2 separate regions of the Homo sapiens genome follow, and region 1 is linked to region 2. Evidence: fine-mapped expression QTL. A gene starts in region 2. The other region holds a variant in brackets. All regions are shown on one strand. Distances are between the middles of the regions.

Evidence for each region. PIP is the estimated chance that this variant, and not a neighbour inherited with it, causes the effect.
Region 1: its variant is the best candidate, but not a certain one, in a credible set for the expression of LINC01794 in testis (GTEx, PIP 0.56).

What each region holds. Positions count from the first base shown.
Region 1 is chr2:40,753,349-40,756,277 of GRCh38, reverse strand. It overlaps LINC01794 (long intergenic non-protein coding RNA 1794), which reads right to left. Exons shown (of 4, transcript NR_183396.1): 2 at 1,649-1,712; 3 at 1,059-1,140. The region is part of intron 2 of LOC105374497 (a long non-coding RNA gene); the gene reads left to right. Among named protein-coding and RNA genes, the nearest start is that of LINC01794, 8.3 kb to the right of the region's middle. The variant C/AC (reference allele first, on the strand shown) is at 1,648.
Region 2 is chr2:40,744,947-40,747,875 of GRCh38, reverse strand. It overlaps LINC01794 (long intergenic non-protein coding RNA 1794), which reads right to left and starts at 1,395. Exons shown (of 4, transcript NR_183396.1): 1 at 764-1,395. All of the region lies in intron 2 of LOC105374497 (a long non-coding RNA gene), which reads left to right.

The sequences.
Region 1 (2,929 bases), 8.4 kb before region 2:
GTGCTTCCAGCTTTAATATAATTCAGTTATGGCTTCCTTAATAGTATCAAACTGTTTTCTAAGTCACTAAAAAAAAAAAAAAAAAAAAAAACAAGTATTTAGTATAAAACGTTATTCAGGATCCAGACCTCCAATAAAACATTTTGAAGCATATATGGCAAATTATATCAATTGTGGCTATTGAAAGAGTGAAGTTGACTGTCATAGTGGCCAAAATCATTGACTCAATAGGCTAATAGTACTATCAAGATCTTCCAAAAAATTCTGCTGTTATAAGTCTCACTCTATTAATGTAGTTTATTTGCTTACTAAATGAATGTACAAATGGGTAAGCAAGATTTAATGCTGATTCTTTAGACCAAAAAAAAAAAAAAAGAGTTCAATTATTTTTCTGGAAGCAAAGCACACACAACCAAACAAATACCAAAAGTAGTCATTCAATTCTATCTTTGCATTAAAAAGGAGCTTTTGAATTTTATGCAATTTGGAAAAAAAAATGTCATATGTTCAGAAGAGAAATCCTCTGTATTCTCTGTTAATGAGAGACATTTTAATCGAAATGTTTTTCATAAAGTTCATCTAAATTAATAATCACAATATATTAAAGTATCCTTAAAGGTGGGAATTACATAGTTTTTAATATTTGATATTAATTAGTGATAACAGGCACTCTTACCTATGAAATCGTTACTGTGAATAAGAAACTACCAAGGGCTACGTGGCTTAATTGATATTCAGATACTCATCTACTTTTAAATGTTTTATAAAATTTCAAAATTTAAAATGTTTCAAAGTTCATCTTTTTGACCAAAAAGTTAAATTATAGAATTTCGTTTTGTGTAGAGATTAGGAAATATGCTATTTAGTCATCAGAAGAATACCATCGGTATGAAATACTTTGTAGTGTTAAGTACTATTTGTTATTAAATATACATTTTCAAAGACACATGTTGATTTATTCTCAGGTGCTCAGACAAGAAGGTAGAAAAAGATAATTTTTAAAATTTGAATGGATTTGGCAACTCCTATTTTTCCCATCAGTCTAAATGCTTACTTACCTTATTCATCCATAAACTGTCTTCATTCAGAAATCCCATGTTAAATACTGTGTTAAGTTCTCAAAATAGCTTCTCCCTGATTCTTCAGGATAAAAGGTATATTGCAGATGTCATCTCCATGGCAGATTTCCTGTCTATTAAACCCATCAAATGAAATCCAAGCAGTGATCACAGCCCTTTGCTCTGGCATAATCTTAAACTCCCCTTTGCAGGTGAAATGGTGGCCTGGAATGCAGTGAAACTGGGTAATAAGCATTGCATGGTCTTTTAGAGGGATATTGAAAGCTGCTCCTTCTATTTTGTATATTGAACTAGTGTTTAGAATTACTCAAATCAGTCTAACTTCTTGTACTTCAGTGTAATGCATACATTTATATAAGCAGCAACACTGGAATTGTCAGAATAATGTTGTCTATTGATCATCGTATTCAAAATGTTCTTCTCTAGGCTGAGAAGTCATTTCATTTTAATTACTATCAATTCAAATTACATCTTTCTTTTTTCCAAGCAACTTTGCTACTTTTATGTTCAGCCTACTTTGGAAAATAATCACTGCCTTTCCTTCTGTAACCTAAGTAAAGTAAACTTA[C/AC]GATTTTTAAATGTGGAAAGAAATGGAGTAGTCAAGTCCAATGATATAATTGGAAGTTCATATCCCTGCAAATAGAAGCATAAAATAAAATAAAACACTACCCTTTCTAGGCATATGATGAAATCTATTTACTGGAGATATATACACATACCATCTTTTCTTAAAATGTAAACTTATTTTATTCTTTCTTGCTCTTCAATATTTAATATTGGCCAGACTCCTCATTAATTCTTTGTTCATTCAACAGGTATTTACTAAATACCTACAAGGTGCCTGCAAGTGGTGTTACATGAATGAAAAAAAATACATTTCCCTGCTCTGATAGAGGTTTAATCTTAGCATAGGGAAAAAGAAAAAATATATTAAACAATTACATTATATCATATGTTTGGAGGTGCTAAGTGCTTAGGGAACAAAAGGGAATGGGGAAAACCTGGCTGGGGTGGGAATCACAGTTTTACATATGATGGTCAGGTACATGTTACAAAGGTGATAACTGAGTAAAGATTTGAAGGATGTGAGGGAATGACCCATGCAAACTTTTTTTTTTTTTTTTTTTCAGGGGAAACAGTCCCCAAGTACAGGAAACAGCCAGTGCAAATATTCTGAGGTAGGCTCATTCCAGCATGATGAATAATTTTCAGCCTATGAACACTTTCTAAGGAGTTTTTCATTCAGGCCATTGGTCCAAATACTACTATTTGACAAAACTGAGAATAAAAGTAAGTCTCTCTCAAGTTCTCAAATCTCTCCCAAGTTCCCAGGTATGAGGCTTAACGTGCCCTGCTTCAGAAATTTAGTTTTCACATTAGGAGGCCAAATTTATGAGCTAAGACCCTTCCTCAAAATTATGCTAAAATGTGAGTGTTGTATAATACTGCATTTGTCTTTTCTTAAATTGAGATATGCATAGAAGTAATCATGTTTAAAGTATGTGAGTCTTGCAATGTTTTTCTCAGTTTTTCAGGCTGTAGAATCCTCTGCATCTCAGATTAGCTTTTAGCAGTAAGATAGAGGCCTCAATCCTGTGTCTCTTCCTATGCAGTTTAATCCTAAACTAAAGATAAAGTCTTACAGACTTTAATGAATCTTACTGCAAGTCTAAATCATGTACAGAACCCTGGTTTTAGAGAGTATTAGAAATTTAGTTTATAGTTTTATTTTTCTAACTTCTGCTAACAATAAAAACTTCCTAAAAGTCAATAGGAATAAGTATTAGGCAAATTAGTCTCATTCATAGATCTGTCTAAAACAACAAAAAAAGAAAGCAGTTTGGTTCTGT
Region 2 (2,929 bases):
TATTAAATACCTCAACAGACCATTGTTTGGTAAACAGAATTGTGTATAAATAATCATCCATCAAATAGGAAAGCATAGTGTTGACAGAGAAAATGTACTTCATTTTAACCTGTCTTTAAGTTCTCCTTTCTTGAGAAATGATAATTTCATTATAAGAATTATAGGAAAATATGGATTTCACTACCAGAATTTCACTGTAAGATTGAATGACGAGCAAGTATTAATTATGTGTGTGTGTGTATACAAGAGAAAGAGTGAAAGACTGAGAAATGAATGAAGAGTAAGTGTCTTTTCTAATAAAACAGCAACATAAGCAATGTTAATATATTGGGCAATATGTGGGGCAGGAAGAGAGAGAGAGTGGAAGACTGTCGTGATAGGGTACAATGACATTAGTGACACTATCAGCTGTTGTAAGCTTGAATACGGTTCTGATAAGGGAGATGCAAATTGTGCCAGTCCAGAAAAAGACCAAGATGGATATGTAACTTTTTACCAGCAAAGTGGAGAATTTGTCAGCTTCTGCACATCTGTCAAAAGATTTTCTGAGTCATCAACTATACTTTGTCATAAACTTGTTCATGTCAAGCAGAGAGATGAAAAGTTCAGGGGAGCTCTCATCTCTACCATGAAGTTCACCTCTTCCTTAATTTCACTGGCAAGCATTGTAACTCTAAAATCTTGTCCTTATAAATTATTTATAAGTATATATGTAATTTAGAAAAATCCATAGATGGCAGTTTAATGCCTCTGAATAGCTTACCAAATGCAGAACTTCATTTTGTAGATATTCTTTCAGAATCTTTATGTAATAGAACTTTAATTTTTATTTTAAAACAAACATGTATTTATGGCCTGATAGAATTCCCTATTTTCTATATAATAAAGAAGATACTAACAGAGGTTTTGGTATTAGATAACATGTAGACAACGTAACCTGAAAATGCTCATGGCAGAAACTTAGAGGAACTCCAATAGTCTCCCTTCCTCCATAGAACTAGAACTCTAATTTTAGAATGCTGGCTGCTTAAATGCTACAATTCTCAGGAAGCTTCCAGGAAGTGTAGCCATATACCTAACATCTGACATATAAAGCGAGAAAGAATAATATATGCAACTTTGAGGATGTGTCTTTGAAAAGAAGGAAATGCCTTCTTTCTTCTCTACCTCCAATCTGCTCTGGAAAAATGAAAATGTTAAGTCCAATTTGGAAATTGTGTTACCGGTGGAGGGTCTTGACTGCAAATTGTCCAGGTTCTTGGCATTTTGAACAAAGAATTGGACAGAATGCACAGCAAAGCAATGAAAGAATGAAGCAATGAAAGCAAAGATTTATTGAAGATCAAAGTACACTCCACAGGGTGGGAGCTTGCAGAGCAGCTGTTCAACGACCCTGGTGACAGAATTTTCTGGGGTTTATATACCCTCAAGAGGTTTCCCATTGGTTCACTCGAGTGACCTGTGACTAGTCTGATTGGTTGAAGAGGAGGCCCACGACCAATCTGATTGGTTGCAGGAGGGGACCAATCAGAGGTACTTTCATTTTCCAACTGCCATGCAACAACTGCGAGGCAGCAAAAGGAGGGGTTACAACTGCCAGCAGCAACTGCCATGCAGAATAAAGGAGGGGTTGAAAAGGGAGTAGCCTCTGATATCGAGTCAGGCAGAATCAGCCTTAGGTTCCCTGCCTCCAAACCCTATTCTCCTTGCCTCGCTTGAGACCATGGCATATAGTATAGAAATTATGTAGAAGAAAGCTGAAATAAAGCTTACATTCTAGATAGATATGTAAACCTAAGCTACCTTCATCAGGACCTAGCTTTTCTCTTACATGAGAAAGAAAGAAACTCTTGTGGTTTAGCAAATTTTATTTTTATTTACTTTTTTAATGCTTTATTTTTAAGTAACTGAAGATTCACACACAGATGGGGAAATTAATATACAGAAATTCCATAAACTCTGCGGCCATTTTTCATCAGTTGTGACACCTTGTATAGCCATAGTATAAAATCACAACGAGGAAACTGGAATTTTGAGTCTTTCTTACAAACTTACTTAATAAAATAGTATTTATTTAGAATGTGCAACATTTGGATCTCTGTTTTAAACTTAAACCTAGCTGTTCCACTTTATGGTACAATTTACTTAGAAATACTGGATTTACTATTTTTAAGTCCTTTAAAAATTATAAGTGCTCTCACATAAAAGACTACCAGAGATTAAAAGCAAAGAGGAGACAAAAAAATTATAGCCATAACTAGAGTGCTTAGCTCTCAAACTGAAGCAAACCGGACAGATCTGGGGTGAAGGTGGAAAGGTTCCAGTCTTCTCATTGATGAAAGTGGGTTTTAGAGCAATATGGGAGCTGAAGATGTAGCCTACGGTCCTCGAAAAACTGGAGGGCAGCTCTACCAAAGTGAAAGAGTGGATTAAAACAAAATTAACTAATGCAGGATGGGTGGCCAGGACAGAAAAGAAATCCTCCCAAGCAAATTCACAATCAACTGCCTGGCCTACCCACAGTCTGGGGTTCACATTTGTATTATTTGGATCCATCAGGGTGCCTTGGTCCGTAAAAAATTAACATAAAAAGATTGGTCCAGGCTAGTGATACTCCTCAGGCTTCTGGAATAGTTACATATATGCTCTTTGAAAATGAACATATCTTCAAGTCAGGATCCACAATTCTCAAGGAAGACCTTGCAATCCAAGAGTACAAAGTGCCCACGAGCAAGAATAGACAGAAACAAACAAACTAACAGAGCAAGATTACATTCTGTATTTAATTCCCAAGGGCTGCTGTAACAAATTACCATTAAAGTTGTGGTTTAAAACAACAGAAATGTATTCTCTTACAGCTCTGGAGACCAGAGTTTGAAGGTGTAGCCAGGACTGGGCTCCCTCCAGAGGCTCTATGGAGATTCTGTTC